Homo sapiens: one gene and its partners. The protein of the gene in region 2 interacts with the protein of the main gene of each other region in a biochemical or structural test. Each region holds a gene or a part of one and is shown on either strand. Other genes may lie near its edges.

What was found.
Region 1: the proteins of G3BP1 (region 2) and LGALS8 form a complex in vitro, tested with the Homo sapiens proteins (one study listed by BioGRID).
Region 3: the proteins of G3BP1 (region 2) and UBAP2L form a complex in vitro, tested with the Homo sapiens proteins (one study listed by BioGRID).
Region 4: the proteins of G3BP1 (region 2) and HDAC6 form a complex in vitro, tested with the Homo sapiens proteins (one study listed by BioGRID).

Annotation. Positions count from the first base shown.
Region 1 is NC_000001.11:236,528,200-236,536,694, reverse strand, and holds part of LGALS8 (galectin-8), read right to left. Parts: intron 1-8,495.
Region 2 is NC_000005.10:151,795,838-151,799,753, forward strand, and holds part of G3BP1 (ras GTPase-activating protein-binding protein 1), read left to right. Parts: intron 1-1,389; coding exon 1,390-1,591; intron 1,592-3,374; coding exon 3,375-3,476; intron 3,477-3,916. UniProt on the Homo sapiens protein: Protein involved in various processes, such as stress granule formation and innate immunity. Plays an essential role in stress granule formation.
Region 3 is NC_000001.11:154,260,991-154,268,681, reverse strand, and holds part of UBAP2L (ubiquitin-associated protein 2-like), read right to left. Parts: coding exon 7,573-7,691; intron 7,091-7,572; coding exon 6,985-7,090; intron 5,580-6,984; coding exon of another isoform or gene 5,530-5,579; exon of another isoform or gene 5,177-5,529; intron 2,182-5,176; coding exon 2,114-2,181; intron 1-2,113. UniProt on the Homo sapiens protein: Recruits the ubiquitination machinery to RNA polymerase II for polyubiquitination, removal and degradation, when the transcription-coupled nucleotide excision repair (TC-NER) machinery fails to resolve DNA damage.
Region 4 is NC_000023.11:48,806,723-48,814,484, reverse strand, and holds part of HDAC6 (protein deacetylase HDAC6), read right to left. Parts: exon of another isoform or gene 7,525-7,762; intron 6,453-7,524; coding exon 6,348-6,452; intron 6,228-6,347; coding exon 6,159-6,227; intron 46-6,158; coding exon 1-45.

The DNA of each region.
Region 1 (8,495 bases), on a different chromosome or scaffold from region 2:
CCACACCTGGGATTCCAGGGCCTGCTCTTCTCTGCTGGACTCCCAGACTGCAACCCAGACTGCACTGTTAGAAACCAGAGAACTGCATGATCATGAGGATGAGTGGGTGCCTGTGGGTCTTCAAGACATGGCATCCACCTGCCGTGGACCAGTCCAGTCTGCAGGCGTGGACTCTGACAGCTGGCTCCACCCAGTATTCAGGTCTCAACCTGCACCCTCACTGCCCAGAACCCAGCCCTTTTTTTCTGGGACCTGCCACACTGCCAGATCTTGTCATTCCCCTTCCCCAGAGATGACTACACTGTCTTCCCAGTCCACTGGCTGGGGACCTGTGCTATGTGGCTGCCTCTCCTGCATCACAACCATCTGCCTCCATCTAGAGCATCTGACCAGGATGTACAGCCCACACACCGTTAAGCCTCACACTAAGCTCACTCAAATTACGATGTGCATGGTAAAACCTACCCAAGGTACTTCTGATTGTCAAGAAATAAGAAATAAAATAAGACGGGCCACAGAAAAGTGGTTATAAATTGGTGGCTCCTAAACCGAAATCGCCTTGAGGCACAGCCTCCTCTGTGGAGCCTTCTTCAAGCTCCCTGGGCTGCTGAGTCAGCCCCTCTCAGAGGGTTCATGATAGCACTTTGGATTCTGTTTGTTTGCATGTAGCTTTGCCTAGACTGTGAGCTGCATGGGGCAGAACTGGCTCATCACCTTTACCTCCCCAGGACACAGGTCAAGAGACGATCGGTAACTGCATGGTGAATGAATGAACTCTCACCTGTCTGGAAAGTGGGCTCTGGCAGGCCTCACACATACAGAGGAGAGGCAACAAAGCAGCTGCTGAACCGCAAGCTGAGCCCACAAGCTCTCTGTTGCCTTAGGCAATAAGATGAGAAATTACGGAAGCCAATTATCTATTTGTTGTCATGGCAATTGCTAGGAGCAGGGTGGGAGGCACATGACACCAGAAAACAAAAAATACAACAGACAGTGTAGACTGGGGCTACAGCTGCACATCAGAGTATCTGATTTTGTGTGTAGAGAATGGGGAAGGACCTACATCCCTACATTGATCTTTTGGGTCACAGCTGGTTCCAAGAATATATAGCAGCAGGTTTCATAGCGTTAATCTCTTAATAAAATGAGAAGTTTTTATAACATCAAATTTCATCTTAAAATTATCTTTATGCAGAATATTTAATAACACAAGTTAGTAATATAAGTGAGAAAGTAATCTATAGAGCCATATATAGTATGATCTCAACTAAATAAATATAAACATTAAAAAGAAAACCTTGCTAATACACACTGTATCCTGTATCAAAATATGCCATATACCCCATAAATAGATATACCTACTACATACTCAAAAAAATTAAAAATTAAAAAAAGAAAAAGAGAAACACTAAAGAAATCAGACAAAAATGATAACAATAGTTTTCATGGGGGATGATGGGATTTTAATTTTTTTCTTCATATATTTTCATACTTTGCAGATGTCTATAATAAGCATCGATATTTCTATAGCCAGAAAAATATTTTTAATTATATGTTTCATTTTAGTGTTGGAAAGAGCTTTTTGAGACAAAACAATCTATTCCCATCACTTTTTTTTTTTTTTTTTTTTTTTTGAGACAGAGTCTCACTCTGTCCCCCAGGCTAGAGTGCAGTGGCGTGATCTCAGCTCACTGCAACCTCTGCCTCCCGGGTTCAAGCGATTCTCCTGCCTCAGCCATCCAAGTAGCTGGGACTACAGGCATGTGCCACCATGCCCAGCTAATTTTTTGTACTTTTAGAGAGATGGGGTTTTGCCATGTTGGCCGGGCTGGTCTGGAACTCCTGGGCTCAAAGTGATCCTCCCAAAGTACTGGGGTTGCTTTGGGAGGTAATGAGCTTTGGGAGAAGCTACCGCACCCGGCCCCCATCACTTCTAATACCTTGTTCACAACTGTTTATAGGTTGTTCCAGTTTGAGAAACAACTATGCTAAGAACGGTGGCCACTTGCTGCTTTAGTTTTCTGGGTTCATCATGCCTTCTACTTCAGAAAAGATCCTGCATTACTTCAGTAATACTTTTTTTTTTTTTTAACTATGAGACACAGTGCCCTGCCGCTGACTCATTTAACCCACGACTATGTGGCTTCTGTGAAAACGGAGGACATACATTGTTTTCTAGGCTACTCCAAGCTACTTTGGTGATTCACAGATCATTATTAATTTACATTTAAAAAATTAAAATACAGATCTGATCACACTGGAGACAATACCACAAGCTTACGCCACAGTCAGGTTTGCTGTTATTTCCCAAAACACCCTTGCTGATTCATATTGCTTTGCCTTTTTGATGATTAAATGCAAGGCTCTCTATTAGGCAGACTGCAGCTTGAAAGAAGCCTAAGAGTCAGACACCCAGGAAACATAACAGACACCCAGGAAACATGGAGTGAAAATGTGATACTCTATTTGGCTGCTGAAAATTGGTATCCCTTTCCATATCTGAAAATCCCCTAGCTTATGAACATTAGACCTCATCTAGACTGCAACAAGGTAAGAGCAGGTGACAAAACTGCCCATTAGAACTTCCAGCTCAGCTTTTAAGTAAGAACCAGTGACAAGAAGAAGCCACAATGACGCAGTATTCACTCTGGCAAGGGGGCAGCCGCTATATCTGGGTTTGGAGAAAGCTACATCTGGGGTCAAAGGCAGCTACATCCGGGGTCAGGGGCAGCTATATCGAGGGTCAGAGGGAGCTGCATCCAGGGTCAGAGGGAGCTACATCTGGGGTCAGAGACAGCAGTGGCATTGGTAGAGTAGCAGAGACACAGTACCATCTGTGTCCAGTGGTGACAACAGATGCCTCTTCATGGGAACCGTCCTACAGTATGCTTGTGTATCTGTGGCTACCTATTCTCCAAGCCTGGTTCTTCATCCTGCTAGAGATTCTGAGAACTCTGCACTATCATTTAGCAAATTCCTTTTCTGCTTAAAGAGTTGGCTTCTGTTGCTTGTAACTACAAACCCTGACCAATTCAACATCTTTAAAAAAAAAAAAAATGGGGGTCAGGCGCAGTGGCTAACACCTGTAATCCCAGCATTTTGGGAGGCGAAGGTGGGCAGATCACTTGAGGTTGGGAGTTGAAGACCAGCCTGACCAACGTGGAGAAACCCCATCTCTACTAAAAATACAAAATTAGCCGGGCATGGTGGCACATGACTGTAATCCCAGCTACTCAGGAGGCTGAGGCAGGAGAATCACTTGAACCCAGGAGGCGGAGGTTGCAATGAGCCGAGATCGGGCCATTGCACTCCAGCCTGGGCAACAAGCAAAATTCAGTCTCAAAGAAAAAAAAAAGGGTGGGGGAGCAGTAAAGAAGAGTCAAAGAAATGCTTCAGGAAAATGGGATAAGGAATTCTAACTGAGGTAGCCAAAGACAGTTTATGAAGAAGATATGATTTCAGTTGCCACTTCAGGTAGAAATGGCAGTTTACAAAAGCAGAGAGGCAGGAAAAGACAAGACCCATCTTCTCTCAGCACGCAGTCAGGGAGTAGTTAAAGAAAGGTACAGCCAGGGTCAGATTTTAGAGTGACATACGAAAGAAGTGTTTAGGAACAACAGTCCAGTGGGGGTGAAATAAGCCAGAGGTCAGGAGGTCATCTGGGTGACTGACTGCTGCCATAAGCCTGGCGTGAAACGATAAGGACACATTCCAGGTCAGTGGCAATGGCCCTGGAAGAGCAGAGAAGTCCAAGAGATGTTTCAAAGGAAACTGTCTACATAAGGCCACTAAATACATGACAAAGCTGGGGAGAAAACAGGTTTTTTGTTTTTTGTTTTTTGTTTTTCTTGAGATGGAGTTTCACTTTTGTTGCCCAGGCTGGAGTGCAATGGCGTGATCTCGGCTTACTGCAATCTCCGCCTCCCGGGTTCAAGCGATTCTCCTGCCTCAGCCTCCTGAATAGCTGGGATTACAGGTGCCTGCCACCACGCCTGGCTAATTTTTTTGTATTTTTCGTAGAGATGGGGTTTTACCAAGTTGGCCAGGCTGGTCTCGAACTCCTGACCTCAGGTGATCCACCCACCTCGGCCTCCCAAAGTACTGGGATTACAGGTGTGAGCCACCGCGCCTGGCCTGGGAGACAGGTTTCAGGAGGAAGATGACGAGTTTAGTTTGTAATACTTGGTGTGAAGCGTTGGCAGAGCATCTGAGAGCAAATCTGCTAAGACTTGGAGACTCAGAACCACACGCTAGGTGAATGGCCAGAGCACACATTTAAAAGTCAGGGTAAAGATCATTTGTAAAGATATCAAAGTAGATAAAGAAATCGAAAAGCAGGACAGGTCAGGCAGCAAAGGCTCGGTGGTTTCTAAAATTAGGAGGTATGCAGAAAAGAATTAACATTGGCAGGCCTGACTGCTGTCCTGGAAAGGCCTCCTTACGAGGCAGGCCCCTGGCTGGTGTCTGGGAACTTGGGATTTGGGAAGGGCACCCACCAACCTAACTGGTAACGGGGATTTCCTGTACCTGAACTGTTCATGCAAATAATATGGTTATGCTAAACACCTGCTTTCCTTCTGGGGGACCAGAATTTTTTGATATGTGTGAGGGTGCTTATGTGACCAGCCTCCAGTAAAAACCCTAGGCACTGAGGCTCTGATGAGCTTCCCTGGCAGTCCACATTTCACAAGTGTTGTCACAACTCCTTGCTGGAGGATGTAAGCACATCCTATGTGACTCCACTGGGAGGCGACCTTGGAACTTGCACTGGATTTCCCCTGGAATTCACCCCAGGTGCCTTTCCGTTTGCAATTTTGCTCTATATCCTTTCACCGCAATAAATCATAGGCACAAGTACAACTCTATGCTGGTGAGTCATCAAAACTGGGTGTGACCTTGGGGACCTCAACATGGGGTGAGAAGAGAAAGGAGAGAGAAGAATCAGTCAGGCCAGGGCAATAATATCAAGGGAGTCAATGGATTTATAAATTTCAGTAAGAGGAAAACTGTCAATATCTTTAACATTGAAGAAGCTAAGAAGGATCCAAGCAAATAAAGATAATAAAATGGGGCCGGGCGCGGTGGCTCACACCTGTAATCCCAGCACTTTGGGAGGCTGAGATGGGTGGATCACAAGGTCAGGAGATCGAGACCATCCTGGCTAACATGGTGAAACCCCGTCTCTACTAAAAATACAAAAAAATTAGCCAGGCGTGGGTGGCGGGCGCCTGTAGTCCCAGCTACTCCGGAGGCTGAGGCAGGAGAATGGTGTGAACCCGGGAGGCGGAGCTTGCAGTAAGCCAAGATCATGCCACTGCACTCCAGCCTGGGCGACAGAGCAAGACTCTGTCTCAAAAATAAATGAATAAATAAATAAAATAAATAAGTAAAGAAAATGGATCATACCCTCTGACCTAGTGATTCCACTTTTACAGATTTATCCTACAGAAATACGTAGCACAGGCACACCAAGATGCACACACAAGGATGTACACTATAGCACCGGATATAATCGCAAAAAGACACAGCCCTTCACAAGGGACTGCTTACATAAGTTTTACTGCTAATTATGCAGCTGTTAAAATAAATGAGGAAGTTCTAAATAAAATGACATTTCCAAAATAGGTCAAATAGAAAAAGCAGGGTAGAAAACAGTTTATACGGTAAAATGCATGCACGTAAAGAGACAGGATATATAAAAGGTGATATACACAACACACACACTTTTGGATATTCATAAGTATCTCAGGAAGGATATATTTCTAAAAACCAGTAAAAAGTGATTGCCCTTGGGGAGTAAAACTAAGTACCAGGGTAGAAGGAAAATGCATGTTTCACTGAAACTCTTAAATACTGTTTGAATTTTAAAAAAATGATTTGCACATATTATCTTTAAATTTTTTTAAAAGGAAAAGCCACTGGTTTGGACATAAATGTAGTTTAAAATTTTGAAGACAGACTATCTTCCAACTATTGGGTGCTAGGAAACAAGGGAGGAGGCAAAAGTTAAACAGCAGAAGGATCCTGCTGCAGAAAACTGCAAGAGGAAAGCTGGTTTGGGAAGGAAGATGCAAGTTTGGTTTTGAACTCCTAGTCTTGAAGGGCTGGCTGAGCAACTGAGAGTTGGGGGTTCACATTAGGTGAAAGGTTGGAACTGGATACATATGGAAAAAAAAATCTATGAGTGATCGGTAAAGACATAAAAGAAAGAGACATTAAAGACAAAATTTCACTAGTAAAACCAAAAAAGAAAAGAGAGTGAAAAATCAGAGGGCAGAGCCTTAGTGAGGAAATCCACTCTCAGTCAGGAAGGCAGGCAGCAAAAAGAGAAGAAAAACAGCACAAAGGCTAGAAGGTATCTCACAGGTTACAAAAGAAAGACTTGACTGTGTTGTGTTTTAAGACTAAATTGTAAGGTAAAAAAGGAGTACTTAGAATACTAAGCAGAAAAGGATAAACATGGAAGCAAGGTTCCTAAGAAAACTGGGTACCAGGTAGGATTTATGTTGACAAGCAACTTATTAACTTGGAGTAACAACCAATTCTGTTTCATTTCTAAATGATTTCTTAACCAGCTAGCATTTAATCATATCTTAAGAACTCTATAAACAATAGCAAAATTAAATATATAGGTAGATAATGAACTGCCAAACAAGAAATTTCACTGGCAGCATTCCTGGTATGAAGTAAAGATACTGTCTTCCAAATTATTCATTCAAATTCAATAGAAAGAAAAGTAAGTGGCCAGCCACGGTGGTTCACGCCTATAATCCTAGCACTTTGGGAGGCCGAGGCGGGCGGATTGCCTGAGCTCAGGAGTTCGAGACCAGGCTGGCCAACATGGTGAAACCCCGTCTCTACTAAAATACAAAAGAACAATTAGCGGGGCGTGGCGGTGTGCGCCTGTAGTCCCAGCTACTCGGGAGGCTGAGGCAGGAGAATTGCTAGAACCCAGGAGGCAAAGGTGGCAGTGAGCCGAGATTGCACCACTGCACTCCAGCATGGGCAATAGAGCAAGCCTCCATCTCTTAAAAAAAAAAAAAAAAAGAGAAGAAAGAAAAAAAAAAAAAAACAGAAAAGGAAGCCTAACTTTTTTTTTCTTTTTTTTTTTTTGAGATGAAGTATCACTCTGTCGCCCAGGATGCAGTGCAGTTGTGCAATCTTGGCTCATTACAACCTCCACCTCCCGGGTTCAAGTGATTCTCCTGCCTCAACCTCCCATGTAGCTGGGATTACAGGCCACCGCCACCATGCCCGGCTAATTTTTGTATTTTTAGTAGAGACGGGGTTTCACTGTGTTAGTCAGGCTGGTCTCGAACTCCTGACCTCAAGTGATCCTCTCGCCTCGGCTTCCCAAAGTGCTGGGATTACAGGCATGAGCCGCAGCACCCGGACTCTGACTTTTTATTTTTATTTTTGAACATGGTTCTTGCTCTGTCACCCAGAATGAAGCACAGTGTCAAACTCACAGCTCACTGCAGCCTCAACCTCCTGGGCTCAAGCAATCCTCCCACCTCACTCTTCCTCATAGCTGGGACTACAGACATGCGCCACAATCCCCAGTTAATTTTTGTATTTTTATAGAGAGACAAGGTCTCACTATGTTGCTCAAGCTGGTCTTGAACTCCTGGGCTCAAGTGATCCACTAGCCTTGGCCTCCCACAGTGCTGGAATTACAGGCATGAGCCTCTGGACCCAGCCTTAGAGCCTGACTTTTTTAAGTCTTGGAATTCTATCAGTTGAACTAGTCAAAGAAATATACTAAATAGGGAAAAAAATACATAGGCCAGTTGCAATATTTACTTCATCTTTTCCAAGAAAACTTAATGTGGACAGTTGGTCTAACACCAATGTGGACCAAAATATTAGAAATAGGCCAGGCATGGTGGCTCATGCCTGTAATCCCAACACTTTGGGAGGCCGAGGCGGGAGGAGTGCTTGACCAGACTGAGAAACATGGCAAAACTCTGTCTTTACCAAAAAAAATACAAAAATTAGCCAGGCATGGTGGTGCATGCCTGTAGTCCCAGCTATTTACAAGGCTGAGCCCAGGAGGTGGAGGTTGCAGTGGGGTAAGACTGCACCACTCCACTCCAGCCTGGATGACAGAGCGAGCCTCTGTCTTAAAAAAAAAAAAAAAAAAAAAAATTGGAAACATTAATGAAATAAAAATTAAAAAGTGGCGGTGTGTTTATAATGCCTAATAAAGAATACAACAGACAATAAATATATTTACTTATTGAACCTATCAGTAACAAAACAACCATGATTCAAGAAAACAGGTTTTGTGTGTGGGGGGGTTTTTTTTTTTTTGAGATGGAGTCTCGCTCTGTCACCCAGGCTGGAGTGCAGTGGCACCATCTCGGCTCACTGCAACCTCCGCCTCCCAGGTTCAAGTGATTCTCTTGCCTCAGCCTCCCGAGTAGCTGGGATTACAGGAGGCTGCCATCACGCCTGGCTAATTTTTGTATTTTTAAGTAGAGACGGAGTTTCGC
Region 2 (3,916 bases):
AAGTGAAAACTTGCATATTGTTTATCAAGAGTTGAATGTATTGAGGTATTAAATGCTTTGAGGGAATATGAAGTGGACAGAGACCTATTTAATTAGAGATCGGGCATAAATTGATATAAATACCAATATGTGAGTTAAGTAGCAATAAAGAATTTCATTACGTTAGTAAGTGCATCATTATACCTTTGGGTTTTTTCCCCCTTGTGATTAGAACAGAAATGTGTTTGATAGCAATAGAAATCCATATTTACTTGTTACCATGTGATACTGAATGTTAATATTCAGTGCCTGAAGGGTGTTTTCAAGTGTTTCTTAAGGTGTGATGAACTAATCAGGTTACTCACTTGGGTTGCTGGTTGAAAATGAAGATTCATGGTCCCACTGCAAACCTACCGAATTAGACTTTCAGGAGGCAAAACATCTGCAGTTTTGTTTGTTTTTGTTCTATTGAGACAGAGTCTTGCTCTGTTACCCAGGCTGGAGTGCAGTGGCGCGATCTTGGCTGACTGCAACCTCCGCTTCCTGGATTCAAGCAATCCCCCTGCCTCAGCCTCCTGAGTAGCTGGGACTACAGGCGCACGCCACCATGCCCGGCTAAGTTTTGTGTTTTTGTAGAGATGGGGTTTCGCCATATTGGCCAGGCTGGTCTGGAACTCCTAATCTCAGGTGATCTGCCCACCTTGGCCTCGCAAAGTGCTGGGATTACAGGTGTGTGCCCAGCCCCCTCTGCAGTTTTAACAGCATTTCTGGTTGATTTATGTGGAATTTTAAGAATTGTATTCTGAATCATAACTATTTTCTCCCCCAAATTCCTTATGTGCTTGAAAGAGTTTTTGTGTGTTTGTGTTAAAAGCCACATATCATAAAATTTGCCATCTTAACCTTTTTTTCATCTTAACCATTTTTAAGTGTAAAGTACAGTAGTGTTAACTGTATAGATGTGGTTCTATGACAGATATCTAGGACTTTTCACCTTACAACTTTTATTGAAGATAACTTTATATACCTTATAAACAGACTATACCCATTGAATGGCAACTTTCTTTCCCGCCCCCCCCGCCCCAGCCTATTTTGAGAGTTTTTCTGATGTTGTATGCTAAATGAATTGTAATAGTTGTGGGATTCCAGCCATAAAGTGGTTTGGTTCATTTTGATGTCCTGATTCATTTGCTTATCAGAATTTGCCAAACAAATGGATTCCAGTTAAGTTATTGAGTGGCATTTTAAAAATTACTTTTTAAAAACTCAGATAGATATACAATTCTTAGATTTTTGTTTTGGATAGAAGGAGCTAACTCTGTGTTCTGGTTTCTGATTAATAAATGATGGAGGAATTTTTTGTGAAATAAATGGTGGCAGAATGATATTTCTCAAATTTTCCTGTCAAAGTAATGACATGGAAGAACATTTAGAGGAGCCTGTTGCTGAACCAGAGCCTGATCCTGAACCAGAACCAGAACAAGAACCTGTATCTGAAATCCAAGAGGAAAAGCCTGAGCCAGTATTAGAAGAAACTGCCCCTGAGGATGCTCAGAAGAGTTCTTCTCCAGCACCTGCAGACATAGCTCAGACAGTACAGGAAGACTTGAGGGTATGAAACGTGTCTTCATTTTTATTCTATTCCTAGTTATTTTTTTTAAAAAAAGTTTCTGTTCTTTTGTATTGCTGTTTGGTTGACTTGTAGATACATTTTCATATTGGTGGTTCATTTCAGGGAAATTTCTTAGATATTGAGCCATATGTTTGATAAGAGAGAGGTAAGATGTGTATTAGTTTATTTCATCAAAAGAAACCACTCCCTTCCCCGAGGTAACTTGAATGCCTGTTAGACCAGAAATTTTAGGTGCCACTGTAGCACCCTATCAGTGATTCCTTTTCTATTTAATATTTAATCTTTTACACTATAAATTATTACATACTTGTTACTACAAGTGCATAACATCTTTTCAAGAAAAATAACATGGCAGAATATACTTTTTCTATGAAATTTTATTGAAGATAACTTTATAGTGGAAGTAGAAATGAACTGCTGAAGTAAAACTTCTTTTCTAGTTGGCATACCTGATTTCAGAAGTTTTCAGTTTGTCCTTCTGAGTCTCGTCAGGGTGATTGTTAACTGAACTATCGTTGAAACCTTTGCATTTGGTGCTCTGGAAAGGAATATAATTTTTAGTGCTGTGTTTATAGGCTCAGGGTTATGTCATTTGTTTGTTCAATAATTCAAATTCCTGCTGTGTGTTAGGCATTGTTCAAAGTGTAGGTTTTATATTGGCAAAACAGATAGGGGTTCTTGTTCTCTGGCAGCTAATAGGTGAGTAGGAAAGAGCAATGTTGAAATGACTTTAGCTTGCAAGTGGAAAAAATTAGCTGGGCATGGTGGTGCCTATGTGTGGTCCCACCTGCTTGGGAGGCTGAGGTAGGAGGATGGCTTAGCCTGGGAAGTCAAGGCTGCAGTGAGCTATGATTATGCCACTGCATTCCAGCCTGGGTAATAGAGTAAGACCTTGTCACAAGAACAAAACCATAAGAAGCAAGTGGAAAAGTAGGTTGGCTGGACCAGCTGACCACTTAGTTGGTTATTATAGTAACCCTAGTGAGAGAGAATGATGGCTTGAATTAGAGTTGTGGCAGTGGAAATGGAAAAGAAATAATTAGGTAGAATAACAGGTTCTGGCGATTTTTAAATGTGCGAGAAAGGTGTTTATGATGATTCTACAATTGATGTAATTGAGTCGATGTTTGTACAATGGATTGGATGGAATCACAGTAGGAAGAGCTGAGCTGATTTTGGAGGAGAGGGAATTTTGTTTGATTCACAGATTTGAATGAAAGTAGCTTTTGTTGGGCCAGGCGTTGTGGCTTACGCATTTAATCCCAGCACTTTGGGAGGCTGAGGCCAGGAGGATTGCTTGAGTTTAGGAGTTCAAGACCAGCCTGGTCAATATAGTGAGACTTCATCTCTACTAAAAAGAAAAAATAGCTGGACATGGTGGCACATGCCTGTAGTTTCAGCTGCTTGGGAAACAGGTGGGAGGATCACTTGAGCACAGGAGATGTAGGCTGCAATGAGCTGTGTGCATGCCACTGCATTCCAGCCTGGGCAACAGAGCAAGATTCTGTCTCAAAAAAAAAAGTGAGTAGTTTCTTGAACCTAAGCCTCTCGGATTTGCTTGGTACTTGATCATCAGTCCCAAGGAATTTCAGTACTAAATTTTGAATAGCTGAAAGAGAAGAATCTTAATATATATATATAAACTCCATCCTGCCTATGAGAATGTGTTACCGTTTGTTCTGTACAGGAAATCAAGAGTTAGTAGCTTTTATATTGTTTTGATACCTGGTATAATTATGTAATGTTGGTATTGCTCCCTTAGACATTTTCTTGGGCATCTGTGACCAGTAAGAATCTTCCACCCAGTGGAGCTGTTCCAGTTACTGGGATACCACCTCATGTTGTTAAAGTACCAGCTTCACAGGTAAGGTCCTAATAAAACTTGTACATTAGGCAAATTTACTTCTATTGTGGTAATTTGATTCAACAGAGGTTTAGAGAATGTGAAAACTGGTCAGGTGCAGTGTGGCTCATGCCTGTAATCCCAGCACTTTAGGAGGCTGAAGCCAGCTGATCACTGGAGCCTAGGAGTTTGAAACCAGTCTGGGCAACATAGTGAGACCCTGTCTCTACAAAAAATAAGAAATTAGCTGGGCCTTGTGGCATGCATCTGTAGTCCTAGCTACTTAGGAAGCTGAGGTGGGAGGATTGCTTGAGTCCCGGAGGTTGAGGCTGCAGTGAGTCATGATTGTGCCACTGCACTGCATCATGGGCGACATACTGAGACTCTGGCTCAAAAAAAAAAAACCAACCCAAATCAATGTAGAAACAGAACTGACATATAGGACGGAAGAGAAGGGTATA
Region 3 (7,691 bases), on a different chromosome or scaffold from region 2:
TCCCTGACCCTCAGAAAGCAGCATGGTGTCACAGAAGGCACAGTACACTTGAAGTCACATATTCAGGTCTCAGTCTCAGCTCTGCTCTTATTTAAGAACTGTGTGAACCTGGGCATACTACTCAATCTCTTAGCCTCAGTTTCCTCAGATATAAAACAGGGATGCTACAAACCTGTTGTAAAGACCAAATAGGCTGGGCATGGTGGCTCACATCTGTAATCCCAGCACTTTGGGAGGCCAAGATGGGTGGATCACACAAGGTCAGGAGTTTAAGACCAGTCTGGCCAATATGGTGAAACCCCGTCTCTACTAAAAATACAAAAATTAGCCGGGCATGGTGGCGGGCGCCTGTAATCCAGCTACTTGGGAGTCTGAGGCAGGAGAATCACTTGAACCTGGGAGGTGGAGGTTGCAGTGAGTCAAGACTGTGCCACTGCACTCCAGCCTGGGAGACAGAGGGAGACTCCATCTCAAGAAAAAAAAGAAAAAAAAAGGCTGGGCGCAGTGGCCCATGCCTGTAATCCCAGCATTTTGGGAGGCCAATGCAGGCGGATCACCTGAGGTCAGGAGTTTGAGACCAGCCTGACAAACATGAAGAAACCCCGTCTCTACTAAAAACACAAAATTACCCGGGCATGGTGGCACATGCCTGTAATCCCAGCTACTTGGGAGGCTGAGGCAGGAGAATCGCTTGAACCCGAGAGGCGGAGGTTATGGTGAGCCCAGATCGCACCATTACACTCCAGCCTGGGCAACAAGAATGAAACTCCGTCTCAAAAAAAAAAAAAAAAAAAAAAAAAAGACCAAATAAGAGGATGGAATGTGGAAGCACTTTGTAAAACTGAATGTCATATGTGAACATCATGAAATCCGAACTTAGAACTCCAGGCTGGGCATGATGGCTCACATCTGTAATCCCAGCACTTTTGGGAGGCTAAGGCGGGTGGATTGCTTGAGCCCAGGAGTTCGAGACGAGCCTGGGCAACATGGCAAAACCCTGTATCTACCAAAAAACAAAAATACAAAATACAAAACAAACAAAAAACAAAAATACAAAAATTAGGCAGGCCTGGTGGTGTACACCTATAGCCCCAGCTACTCAGAAGGCTGAGATTCCACCACTGCACTCCAGCCTGGGTGACTTCTTGAGACTGTCTCCAAAAAAAAAAAAAAAGGCAAACCAATAGTGTCCCTACCCCTTCCAATATTCCTTACAAAAATAGTAACTCCGCTGGGTGCAGTGGCTCACGCCTGTAATCTAGCACTTTGGGAGGCCAAGGTGGGCAGATCATGATGTCAGGAGTTCGAGACCAGCCTAGCCAAGATGGTGAAACCCCGTCTCTACTAAAAAATACAAAAATTAGCAGGCGCGGTGGTGGGCACCTGTAATCCCAGCTACTCAGGAGGCTGAGGCAGGAGAACCGCTTAAACCCAGGAGGCAGAGTTTGCAGTGAGCCGAGATCACACCACTGCACTCTAGCCTGGGTGACAAGGCAAGACTCCATCTCAAAAAAAAAAAAAAAAAAAAAACTCGTTGGATATTTCAAAAGAAATAAACACATACTGAGATATTTGAAGTGCTGAAGGTCTTGTGCATGAAGTGCCCCCCCAGACCCCCAGTGCTTTATAGCAAACTTTAAGTATTTATGGTGATGGGGGATAAAAGCAACATAACAAACCTGTGGATCACTCAAATGCTTCATTAGTTACTAGGTCGTCTCCTTTCCCACTCCCACTGTTATAGATTTACTCAAAGAATGGAATGAACTAGTTTCCTGTCACTCTCATACTTATTCTCTTGAAAAGTTATGAAAAAGGTTGGGAGTAGGTAGGAAAAGGGGCCAGGAGAGTTGCACAGTAAATTACATGACACGATAAACAATTTGCCACGCTTTACCTTCCTATTACGTTTCTCGTTTTTTTTCTCAGAGGGCTAAATTTTAACTTCTTAGAGGAAGTGAAGTCTAGAGAAGACCTTTCATTTAGAAAAAGTAGGATGGGTTTCCTGCCACCTCTCCTAGGGTTCTTCTTGTCCACTGTTATTTCTACCATTGCAACTCCACCTCCTCTATGTCTATCTCTTTTCCACTTTTATCCAGAGCCAGGCACCTACCTGGGTTTTGGAGTACACAGAACCCGAGATATCTGGCACGCCCGTGTTACTGGAGGTGACTGAAACACCTGGGGGAGGAGGAAACAGACAGGAGGATTAGCTCAGCTAGCTACCTGGCCCTTATTCCTGAGATGAGGTGATATCTGTAGCCTTTCTAGCTATACCAATGCAAGGGAATTTTGGTCGGTTTTCCAGCTTCAAGTTAGTCCTGAGAGGTAAGAGTTCATGAAACAAAAGCTCCCTAAGGGTTCTTTGGCCCTTCCCAGGTACGTGTTGAGTATACGTGAGAGAGAGTGAGGTAAGTTGTTTTTTGGTGGGCAAGGGGATATGACCAAACCTCACTAGCATACACTGTTTTCAAAACACTTCTGTGCCAAAGTCTAGCAGGAATATAATAAACTTTTAATTTTAATGTCCATTTCAAATCAATCCACCCAAATGCCACTCAGTTTTATTCCTGGAGACTGGGGCAGTCTGGCCCTCTCTCTTCCTGAAGTGACATTTCTGGGCTCAAAATCCATGCCTCCACTGCATAAGTACTAGAGGAGCAGTCCACTTTAATCCCCAAGGGCACTCTCATTCTCAGAGCCTCAGCTCAATTAGTCCAGCTTCTTTAGTCTTGGAGCATCTAGGCTAAATCTTCAAACTTAAGATGTAAAGGTCTAGTATCAAGATCAATTTCCATGTACACAATTTAAGCCTAAGTGTAGCGGGGTGGGGAGGGATAGGTAGACAGGAGTAGGCCATCTCCTATAGCCTAGGTGGAACACAAAAACCACGTCATTTTCAGTATACAACTTCAGCTTCTCCGTAAGATAAAAGCTCTCATACCCCAACTCTCATATTTCCTGTTGAAAAAAACTCCCTACTAACCACTACAACTTTAAAGAAACCAGAGTAGTACAACATGTCATTCTAATTTGTACTCCTCAAACAAATAAATACTCATACTATATTCCATCACCTGGGGTATAAGGCATCGGGTCAAGAAGATAGGAAAAGCCATGAAATAAATAACCTAACATCTTTTATACTTTCCATTTTGAAACAAAGATGTGAAGAAAAGTAAGTAATTTAACTAGGAATATAAAGCATGATTTTAAAAAGATATATTAGTTTTTATAAAAATAAAACAAAGCTTCAGAAAAACTTTGCCTGTCTATGCCCTTGGATCCTTCCCATCAGAGGTACACATTTCCTTCTCCTCTGCTATCAGGAACACTGATGGAAAAGAGTTTTAGAAGCAGTGTACTAGAGTGGCCAAATCACAAATAAGGAATCCTCCATTCACCCACAATTCAAACTCTAGAACCTAAATCCTCCCAATGCCTCAGACAAAGGCAGCCTTCCAAAGTTAAGCCCACCTTGAACAGTCACTTTTGAAGTGGTATCTTAATCTGGAAAACCTTCCCAACATCCTAAGTCCAGATAGTTCCTGGGAGGGGCAAACACTAACTAGGAAAAATAACGGAACTACAGAAAACCAAGCAAGAGAAAATACTTCCTCATCTCCGAAGCATCAACTGTCTAAAGACACTGAAGTAAAAGAAGGGAACGATACAGGAGTATCTTAAAGGGCTAATGGGGTATTTTTTCCATTCCCTTTTCAAACCCGAGGTGCCCATCTGGCAAATCACTGAGTAACAGGCATAACTTTTAAGAATAGGAAGTTCAGTTATGGAAAAGGCTTAAGCTAGTAAGTTCATGTGGAAGGGTGGAGAGTAAAGGTGGAATAAACAGGATATAAGTAGAACATTTTTAAGTCAAACCAAAAGAGAGAATTTATCTTTACTGCAAAGGCAAAAAAAAAATAAAAAAATAAAAAATAGCATAGTTGGTCACCTTCTGCAGTGAGGCTAGGCTGCCTATATTGGATGGAAGAAATGACTAACTGGATTCTCAAGCCGAGTGGTAGGGAGGAATTCAGCTCCAGTGTGCCCCTACCTGATCTCATTCTTTCCAGAGTTTAGGCTAAAAACAGCTTCTAGTCCAGAGGCCTTATCTTTGATATGAGGTTGAAGGGACTGAGAATGCAGGAACCATAATACTCTGTAGTAGCCATAATAATCTCAATTACAGTATTAGAGACCTAGAAAATAATGGGTACTGATTTCACTACCCCTCACCAGTTATTAGGAAGATCTTCAGACTACAGAGTTCTCTTGCTTTCCTTCCAACATCAACACCCCCTACTTATCCCCAAACAGTGACAATACCAGAATCACGTGGGCAGCAGGGCAGAGACACATGAATCTATCTCTCCCACCATGGCAGCCCCTGGGAAAGGTGGTCACACTCCACAGAGCAAAATTACTCCAAAGGGCTGGGAACAAATACAAGGAAAGCTGAATACTTTGGTTTCTAATTCACCCAGGGTGGTGATCTCACTGTCCACGTTAACTTTATAAACAAAGGGCTAATGTTGTATGCTAGCTGGACTGGGAGGGAATTAGAATTTCCATAGTCAAGGAGATATCTGACCAAACCGCTCCTGCACATCCTTAGCTTATACCCACAAATGCAAAACTGGTAATCCACGATCTCTGAAAAGCCATCAAGGGACTAAGAACAATGTTCCAGGATAGCACAGTCGCCACAGAGCCTGAGTCATCAACTAGCTTATCACTAATGACTTTATCAGATCTTAGCCACTTGGCCTTTAGGAACCAGATAGATGTGGGAATTAAGCCTTGAAAGATACTTCTCTAACAGCTCTGAAAACTCTCTCTTTTGCCTTTCACCATGACATGACACTCCAAACTTTTTTGTCCTTTCCCCCACTGCTTATGTAAGAGGCAAAGGAAAGATCTAAATGGAAAAATGAAGCAACATAAGCATGGAGAATCAGGTATTTCTACAAATAGTTTCCTTTACCAACTAATCAACAGGTGGGAAACTGAGGCTGTTTCCCCTCCCCCCACCTTCATAAAACCACCATACTGAAAAATTAATAGTTCTTTGGCTATGCTGGGGTTTGATTAAAAAGGCCACCCTCCACCCTTCATCCACAGCACAGCATTGGTTCCTAGTGTCCACAAAGACATGCACGGAAAGAACGCCAGAGTTAGCTAAAGAAATACCACAGTTTATTGAAGACTACAAATATTTTTGTTACAAGTTGAAACTACATGCCTTCCAGAAATCAAAAGCAACAGCAGGTGTGTGCATTGATGCTTCGAAGGTGCTGCACCGCTTGAACTTGAAATGGGTAAGACAGGGTCAGACACATGGGGGAGAGGGAAATGGGGGAGGGGCAAGTTCAAAAGCCCAGAAGGTATCCACCAACTCATTTCCCCAAGCCACGCAGGCCATGGCCTCAGCTCAGCAGGCTCTCCTCAGTGGTCTGGTTTCTGAAACAAGACTTCAGTGCAAATTTATACACACACACAAAACACAGCCCCCAGCCTTGGGCCAAATTAGCTCTCAGCCGTCCAGAAATGCTTGTAAGGGGGTGGATATTTTCTTCCTAAAAGGAATCAAATACATAAAAATAAATGAATGGAATGACAAAAGCCCTTTGTGGGGTTGGGAACTGGGGGTTCTCAAGGGCTGATATAATACGTTTCTGAATTCTGAAGGGAGGCAAGAAGGTGGGATTTCTAGAATCAGGTATGCCAATTCTCTTATATTATCCATCACCTACCTCTTAAAATTCGTGAACCTGGTCCAACTAAGACTTCAACCTAATGTCCTCAGAAAGGGGCCACCACTCCAAGTCAAAAGGCTTATAATCCTCCCCACCAAGATTTAGGGTGAACCTTGCTCAATGACAGGGGTGGCCACAAGGAGTCTATGTATTAAATCTCAATGGGGCTTCTCAGGATTTGTTTAATTTAACTCATGACCCACTCTAACTCATGCAGCACAGTTCAAAGCTCCACTTGGCTATCAGTTCCTAGCCCTTACTGCCTTCTGTGCTCTTCCCAATTATTGAAAACTGTGGGCAACTGACCCACCCAGAGCCCACATAAGGGTGAAAAACACATGCTGCTCTATCCAAATCACCATGAAACTGTAACTGAGCTGACAGCTTTGAAGGACAACCCCCATCCCCAACCCTAAGCAATCAGAGAAACCTACTCCTCCCCTATTCATCTACAAGTCGCTGAAAAGGTACAATTATATTATTCAAAGATTCCTTCTCACTCCCTGTCCTCCAAAAGTAGAGCACAGATGTCAGGTATGGAAGCAAGGGAGAGGCTGAGTATCTTTTAGGTAAGTACCCATCCAGAGGATTCCTACAATTCCCTCCCTGCCATCACATATGCAAAAAGACTTGCAAAGAGACCAGCCATACAAATGAAGGAACCTAAAGGCCCAACTCTCCCAGTCCAATTCCCACTCTATTAAGTATGGTCACGCCTACTCCTTTTTCTCCACAGTTTAGGTCTTCTAGCTAGGGAATAAAAAAGGACACATAAGAAAAGTAGTGCTACAAAGTGATTTAAGCCAAACCTATCGTAGGCTGCTAGCTATGAACCCATTTAATCCTTCTACTCAGTGAATACACCCCCCTTTTGTACTATCAGTGCCATACATACTATTAACACTTGCCTCCACTGACATTTCAGCAAAATCTTGGGGCTCCTTGCCCTACTTCCACCCACACTTTTGGCCAACCAACATATTCTAAAAACCAACACATACTCTTGGGCATTCCCGTCACAAATAGTGGACACATGTCCTAGTATCAAGCTCCTCTGTTGGTGCTGCTCCCACAGATACCCAAGTCAGCCAAGCATTAACAATCATACCTGGGGCAGCGGCACACCCTCACCAATCCCATTTTCTCAAGCACCAAGTCTTCCTCCCTGAAATTTATCCAATAACACCCCACAGATAACACCGAGCCAGAGACAAGGTCAGCTTACCAGTGTTGTATCCATGAGACCCATATCCACTCGGCTGTTGGAAAGGGGTGGCCGATGCATTCACACTGACATTCACACCATGCTGCTTGGAAGAGGTAGGAGCCACCTAAAGAGCAAAAAGGCCAGATTTGCAGTGACTTGGCAGCAGAATACCATCTGTCCCACTTGTCCTGCTCCAGGTACTGGCCATTCAGATGGCTACCTATCCTGATGCAAGTTGACTACAGTTTGCTTAGTGAAATTAGCTCCTTACTAACTGTTCTAGAATCTACTAATGAAGTCAAGAAATGGTAGTTTGGAGGAAGAAAAAGGGACAATGGCAGCAGGGAATGAATGAATCTGAGTGAAGCAAAGCTGTATGGTATCATATTCTCCCTTTGGCAAATTCTAAGACTAGGCAATCCCTATCCTAATTCCACCAATTCCAGCCCCATTCCCCCACCACCCTGCATCAGGCCAAAAACAGGCCAGAGGTGGAAACTGTTCCTCCTCATCCATTATTAAAGTCATTGACCCTTAAAAGCAGCTAGGATAGTGTCCAGGGCTAGGATCCTTCACCACAAGGAGTGACCAAAGCCAGGTACTCACAGGGAACACAGCAGGCCCATACTGGAAGGTGCTGGGGAGGCCCGGGACCCCTGTATAGTATGGCAGGCTGGTGTAACTGTAGCCAGGAGGCAGCGCCGGGTTCAGGAATGTCTGCTGCG
Region 4 (7,762 bases), on a different chromosome or scaffold from region 2:
CAGAACCTACCCTGCTCGTAGCGGTGGATGGAGAAATAGAGGACACTGGGGGCAGAAGAAAAAGAGGTAAGAGAGTTGGAGAAGTCAATCCCCATAGACACCCCCAACCCAACAGTTGCCAGTTTCCTCTACCACTCATTTCCCCATTCAACCACTCGTTCATTCTCTCATTCATTAATTTCCCCATTAATTATTTAATCCATGAATCCATTCTTCCATTAATTTACCCTTACATTCAGTCACCAATTTAATCATCTTACCATTTTTTCATTCTTATCTTTATTTATCCATTACCTCACTCGCTCATTCATTTAGTCTCTCACCAGAACCTCTCCCTCAGCAAACATCGCTGCCCCCTCAGTGCCCACCCAATTTCAGGCTCAGCTCTAGGGTCTATCTCAGATCATGGGGGCTCCTGACTCTGTGGGGTACTCTAGATCATGTCCGCCCACTACCTGCCCCTATGACAAAGGTAGTAGTAACAGCAGGTCAAACCCTGTGACACTGGAGGCCCAAATGGAGCATGGGGCTCTTAGCTGCGGGGAGCCAGCTAAGGCTGAAAAGAGCCTCAAGCCAGGCTGGGGAGCTGGGTGATTCTCTAGCAGGAAGTGGAGAGACCTGGGGGGTAGGGGTGAGACTTGCTTCTGTGGGTGGAACTAGAGCGGGGGTGCTGGCTGGGGCTGTCATGAGGCCAGTGAAAGGGCAGTTCCTCCTCCCCAATGCCTTACAGGCCACCTCTACTACTTCTTCTATTTTATAGGCGAGAGAATGAGCACTCAGAGGGGTGAGTATGACCGACACGCAAAACAGATACTGAAAAGATGCGATGCACGTGTTTTGACAGAAAGCCCAGCAAGGGGCCATGGGAGGGCTTAATTCTGACTGGGGAAAGCAAAATGAATAATCTATCATCCATCCATCCTTCTATCTGGTCATTTACCCCCTGCTTTGTTCCAGAGAGGATCTAAGGCAGCTTTTTTAGGGAAATGCAAGAAATAGTGGTATGCATTGAATCTAGACAAACTTAAGAGTCACATTTTAATGGGTTGATAATGTAGTTGTGAAATTTAATGCAAGTGATATAGAAAGATTCTTAAAATTGAGGGAAAAGAGCTTGGAATTGGGGAATAAAAACAAGCAAAAGCTCTGGTGTTGAGTAGGTGGAGGATGATTGTTTTATTTTTGACATTGATAGATAAATCTTGGTTCTAAACTTTTAGTAAGTTAATCATTAGAGGAAGAGAAACACAGTAGGACATAAAAATTATCACCAGAGGGCTGGGCGCAGTGGTTCACACCTGTAATCCCAGCACTTTGGGAGGCCAAGGTGGGCGGATCACTAGAGGCCAGAAGTTCGAGACCAGCATGGCCAACATGGCGAAACCCTGTCTCTACTAAAAATACAAAAAATTTGCTGGGCGTGGTGGCGCGTGCCTGTAATCCTAGCTACTTGGGAGGTGGAGGTAGGAGAATTGCTTGAACCCAGGAGGCGGAGGTTGCAGTGAGCCGAGATCGGGCCACTGCACTCCAGCCTGGGCGACAGAGCATGACTCTGTCTCAAAAAAAAAGAAAGGAAAAGAAAAAAATATCATTGGGGAAGACAGGAAGAAAGAAAAGATCTGAAGAAAGCTGACTCTAAAAGAGAGCCATCAAAGTCAATAAACAGCAGAACTAGCACTCAAGCTAAGTTTAAAAAGAAAACAGAAGGGAAATTCAAAATAAGTTCAACCACCTTCAAGTTAAATGGTGGATTGATAGCACAGGTTTACTTCCTCAACCTCCTACTACCCCATTCAAAATACAGTAAAGAAATTGTAAACAAACAGCAACCCAGAAAGAGAGAGTGGAAAGGATGTCAGAGAATAAGAGACTTCAATGAATTTCTAGAAAGTAGACTTTGAGATTCCAGGGGCCCCAGGGTGCTCTGTCTCATGCTGAGCAGGATAAGGGGGCACCCAAGATAAGCTGAAGTTTCCTTTCTGGAGAAATCCAGTACAGATCCAGGTCAATGCACACAAAATCCCTTCTGAAGAGCCAACTCACTGAATCACCAATACAACAAAGTTACTTGTTTCTTTTAACTACTTAGTTTTAGATCATCTGCTTTCCTTGTCTTCACAACAGTATTTTAAGGATTATCCAGTTTGTCTCCCTGCTGCTGGAGTTCAGAGACTGAGAGATGGGGAGCTGGGAGATCCAAGGGCATGGACATGTTCTTTTTGTTTGTTTGTTTACACACGTTTGTTAATAAGGAAGAATGCACTGAATATATTCACAGTGTTTCACATCTGTGTGTGTAATCAATAGTGTACCCATGAAAGAACACACAGCTATAGCCTCCTATGCATTTATTCAAACAAAAAGAATGATTAATGATATTAAAGAATTCTTTGAATGACAGACCCTTGGCAGATTAAAAAAATAATTATTGTTAATTTTCAGGTATTGATACTAAGGTAATGCTTTTCTAAAAAAGTGTACTTATGTTTTAGAGATGCATTCTGAAATATTTACAGGAGAAATTATATGGTATCTGGGATTAGCTTTGAAGGAAAACAGGAAGAGGGCAGTGGGTACAGGTATAGATGAAATGAGATCGGCCAATGAGTTGATAAATGTTGAAGCATTAAATTCCAGAAGCCAGAAATGAACAAAATAAAGAACGTCGGAGGAAAACATTAATAAAGATAAAACCAGAAAAATTAATGAAGTATTAAAAACCCACCATAATAAAACAGTAGAGATGACCAACAAAGCCCAAAGCTACACTGGAAAAGATAAGTACAACAGATACACTTTGGAAAGGCTGAGGGAAAAAAGAGATGTTACCCCAAAGAAGAGGCCTCCTTTGTTCTGACATCTGGCAGGATCCCATCTAATGCCCGGGTCCTTGCCCACACTCGCTAAAGTTGCAACCTGTCAGTGGACATTCCCTGTCCCCATTCTGGGGAAATGCCTTTCAGGAAAACAGACCTACAAACACTGCAGCAGAGTAGTCCTCTGACAGCCCCCTACAATGGGCCTTCATTCTTGGGTATAAATAGCCAAATAAGGATTGCTAGACATTTGAGGAAAACCATCAGCATAAAAGAGAAGGACCAAGAAAAAAATAATTCAACCAGCCTCAGAATAAAGAGACATAACTCAGACAACAGAAGAAACTTAAGGCACTTCCTTTTTTGAGACAGGGTCTCCCTCTATCGCCCAGGCTGGAGTGCAGTGGCATGATCTTGTCTCACTGCAACCTCCGCCTCCTGGGTTCAAGCGATTCTCCTGCCTCAGCCTCCTGAGTAGCTGGGATTACAGGTGCGCACCATCACGTCTGGGTAATTTTTGTATTTTTAGTAGAGATGGGGTTTCACCATGTTGGCCAGACTGGTCTCGAACTCCTGGCCTCAAGTGATCCACTCACCTCGGCCTCCCAAAGTGCTGGGATTACAGGCATGAGCCACCGCACCCAGCCGGCACTTCTAATCCATACTCTATAAAAACAAGATCAGGTATGAGAGGACATAGAAACAGAGAGGAAGAAAGAGCTTTTGGAGTTTAACAGGATATCTAAATACATAATTCAACAGAAGGGCTTGAAGATAAAGTTGACAAAATCTCCCAGGTCACAGCAAAAGAAAAAAGAGACAGAAAACATAAGATAAAAAATAAGAAGCCTGGGCAACATGGTGAGACCCCATCTCTACAAAAGATTAAAAAATTAGCTGGGTATGCTGGTGTGCACCTGTGGTCCCAGCTACTCAGGAGGCTGAGGCATGAGGATTGCTTGAGCCCGGGAGGTCGAGGCTGCAGTGAGTCGTATTTGTGCCACTGTACTCCAGTCTGGGCAACAGAGCAAGACCTTGTCTCAAAAAAAATAAATAAATAAATAAATAAATAAATAATAAAAAAGAGAGAGACATAGAGGATCAACCCAGGAAGTCTAACATCTGACTAACAGAAGTCCTAGAAAGAGAACAGAGAAAACAAAGAAGAAATTATCAAAGATCTAATAGAAAATAATTTCCAAGAGTTTAAGAAAAGCATGAATCTTCAGATGTAAAATGTCTACCTACTATTAAACAGAGTGAAAAGGCCAGGGTAAAAGTTTAGAACATCAAGGCTAGGTACAGTGGCTCATGCCTGTAATCTCAGTGCTTTGAGAGGCTGCAGTGGGAGGACACTTGAGGTCAGGAGTTCGAGACCAGTCTGGGCAATATAGTGAGACCCTGTCTCTACAAATAATTTAAAAAATTAGCTGGGTGTGGTGGCACATGCCTGCAGTCCTAGCTACTTGGGAGGCTGAGGCAGGAGGATTGCTTGAGCCCAGGAGTTTGAGGTTACAGTGGGCTATGATCATGCTACTATACTCCAGCCTGGGTGACAGAGTGATACCCTGTCTAATAATTTAAAAAAAAAAAAAAAAGAACACCAAGATAACCTTGCAGAGAGGAAAGTAGATTACTTGGAAAGGAATGAAAAGCAGACACCTGTCAGGAACACTGAATGCTGCAAAATAATAAAGCAATGTCTAGAGAACAACCAACCTAAATTGGATTCTTCAGATCTTGGATAAGTGGATTCTCTGTAGTCAGCTAGGAAGAAGGCTAGATAAAACTACTACAGGTTGAGCATCCCTAATCTAGAAATCTGAAATCTGAAATGCTGTAAAATCCTAAACTTTTTTTTTTTTTTTAGATGGGGTCTCAGTCTATCACCCAGGCTGGAGTGCAGTGGTGCGATCTCAGCTCACTGCAACCTCTGCCTCCTGGGTTCAAGTGATTCTCCTGCCTCAGCCTCCTGAGTAGCTGGAAATACAGGTGTGTGCCACCACGCCTGGCTAATTTTTCTGTATTTTTGTAGAGACGGGGTTTCACCATGTTGGCCAAGCTGATCTTGAACTCCTGACCTCAGGTGATCCGCCTCGGCCTCCCAAAGTACTGGGATTACAGGAGTGAGCTACTTCACCCGGCCCTAAAATCCTAAACTTTTTGAAGGCCAACATGATGCTCAAAGGAAATGCTCATTGGGGTATTTCGGATTTTGGGTTTTCAGATTAAGGATGCTCAACCACTAAGTATAATATAAATATTTCAAAATCTGAAAAAATCTGAAATGTGAAATACTTCTGGTTCCAAGCACTTCATATAAGGGATACTCGACATGTACTTAGTAATGTCTCCTACTGACAAGGACTTGCTCAATCACTTTCTGCAGGAAGGGTAAGCTGGTCCCCTCCTGGAGGGAAGTCTGGCAGTGTATACCAGACTTTAAAGTATGCTGACTCTCTGGCCCAAGCAACCCACTGTTAGAAATTCATCCTACAGATAGACTCAGAGAAGTGCAGAATTACATATTTACTAGACTATTCACAGTAGAAGTGCCTGTAATAGCAAAAACTGGCAGGCATCTTAAAAGTCCTGGGGTTAAATAACCAGAGGTACAGTCATAAAATTGAATACTACAAAGAACGAGATACTTTAAGAGGTACTAACATGGAGAAATGTCCCAGATATGCTGTTAAATGAATAAAGCAAGTTGTCGAAGAACATGTGGAGAATTATTCCATTAGGCAGTGTGTTATTAATAATTATAACAATAATAATAAAAATTCAGACATCTATAGAGAAAATCTGTAAGGATATAACCTAAACTGTCAACACTTATTTTTGAGGTAATGGAAATTAGAGGAGACTCACTGCTTCAGACACTTCTGTATTATTTAATTTCTTTAAACAAATAGTTTGTTATTTATTTATTTATATTTGTTTTTTACTATCTACTGAAAGGATAAACAAACACTTTGAAGCATTATCCTAATCAGAAAAAATAAAGCAGTAATTTGAGGTTCACTCTAACCCAACGGTTAATCAGTGAATAAGATCTTCAAATATTTGTGGGTCAAATCCCGTCTCTCCCAGTTCTTCTCTGTGTGACCTCTTAACGTATAAGCCTCAGTCCCCCTATCTGTAAAATAGGGAACCCAACAGTCCCTGCCTCAGAGTGAAATTAGGAGAGATGGCAGACACACAAAAGTAGCACAGATCCTGATCCCAGGATAGGCCCCATGAATGTGAATGCCTTTTCCTCCTTCTGGACCCCTTCTGGCTGGGCCTGTAAGGGTGGGAGGTGGCTGGGAGTCTAGCACCTAGGTGGGAGTCGGGGTATACCTGGGGTCCTGGTCGAAGGTGAACTGTGTTCCTTGACCGTGGTGCACATCCCAATCTACGATAAGGACCCTAGGAGCAGCAGAGAGAGGGGACTCTGTGCAAGGAGATCAAGGTGAATCTGGGGGAAGAGCCCAGACCAGGACACCCCACCCCATGCCACCCCCATCACATCTGCCCTCTGTTGCTGACCTCCGGATGCGGTGTTTCTGTTGAGCATAGCGGGCTGCCACAGCCACGTGGTTGAACATGCAATAGCCATCCATAAGACTGTGCTGGGCGTGATGTCCAGGAGGCCTGGGCAAGACAAGGAAATAACAGCTTGGAGTATGTGAGGGGTCCTCCTCTGCAGAGACAGACTGTCCCCTGCTCTCTAATCCTGGACCACCAATTCCTTTAATGCTGATGCCTAAAAATCTGCCGGGAACTGAGTAATGGAGGCCCTCAAACTCTCACCCCCTGCCAATCTACCCCTCTGTCTCCAAAGGAGATTTGAAAATGTTCACTAAAATGATAAAGGCCGGGTGCGGTGGCTCAGGCCTGTAATCCCAGCACTTTGGGAGGCCGAGGTGGGTGGACCACGAGGTCAAGAGATCAAGACCATCCTGGCCAACACGGTGAAACCCCGTCTCTACTAAAAATACAAAAAATTAGCTGGGTGTGGTGGCGGGCGACTGTAGTCCCAGCTACTTGGGAGGCTGAGGCAGGAGAATCACTTGAACCTGGGAGGCAGAGGTTGCAGTGAGCCAAGATTGCATCACTGCACTCCAGCCTGGTGACAGAGCGAGACTCCGTCTCAAAATAAATAAATAAATAAAAATAAAAATAAAATGATCAACGCATTCATTCTCATACCCAGTCATTCTGCTGCAGGAACTTAGCCCACAACCTGTGTTTTAAAAAGGGTGAAGTAACATTTTTATTTTATGTTAGTGTAAAATAAAATTTTATTTTTATAAAGGTACTAGCATATTTGCTGTAGCATTTTTTTAAAACAGCAAATGACTGGGGAGAACCAAAATGCCCATTAGTCGGGGACTGATTAACATAGAGTGCATTTACACAATGGTGTTCTACCGGGCTCCAAGATACATACTGTTAGAGAAAGGTTTCCAAGATGTGTAAGTGAAAAGATGGTACGAAGGGAGTATGTCATGTTACTACCATTTGTGGTTAAAAACAGGGGAGGGAGGAGAAAGCTTTTGCATTTCATCAGTTCTGGGATGCCAATGATGATAAGATGTACCATGATTTTACATGCCAAAAACGAAGCAGAAAATACTGCCAATGGAATTCTGAGATGTCACTGTTTGTAAGATGCATCTGGATTTCAAGATGTTACAAATATGAAAAAATGTACACCTTAGAATCAATGAAATATGGTATTTATTTCTTGAATAAGACTTTGTGGGAGGACACATGAGTCAGTGGTTCCAATGACTACCTCCCATGAGAGGAGGCAGGTGTCTGGGTGACAAGGATGGGAGACAGATTTTTAATTATATTCTCTTTTTTACCTTTGGATTCTTGAATCACATGAATATATTACCCATATCAATACATTTTACACTTGAAGGAAGGACTTTAAAACAATGTAAAAAGTCAAA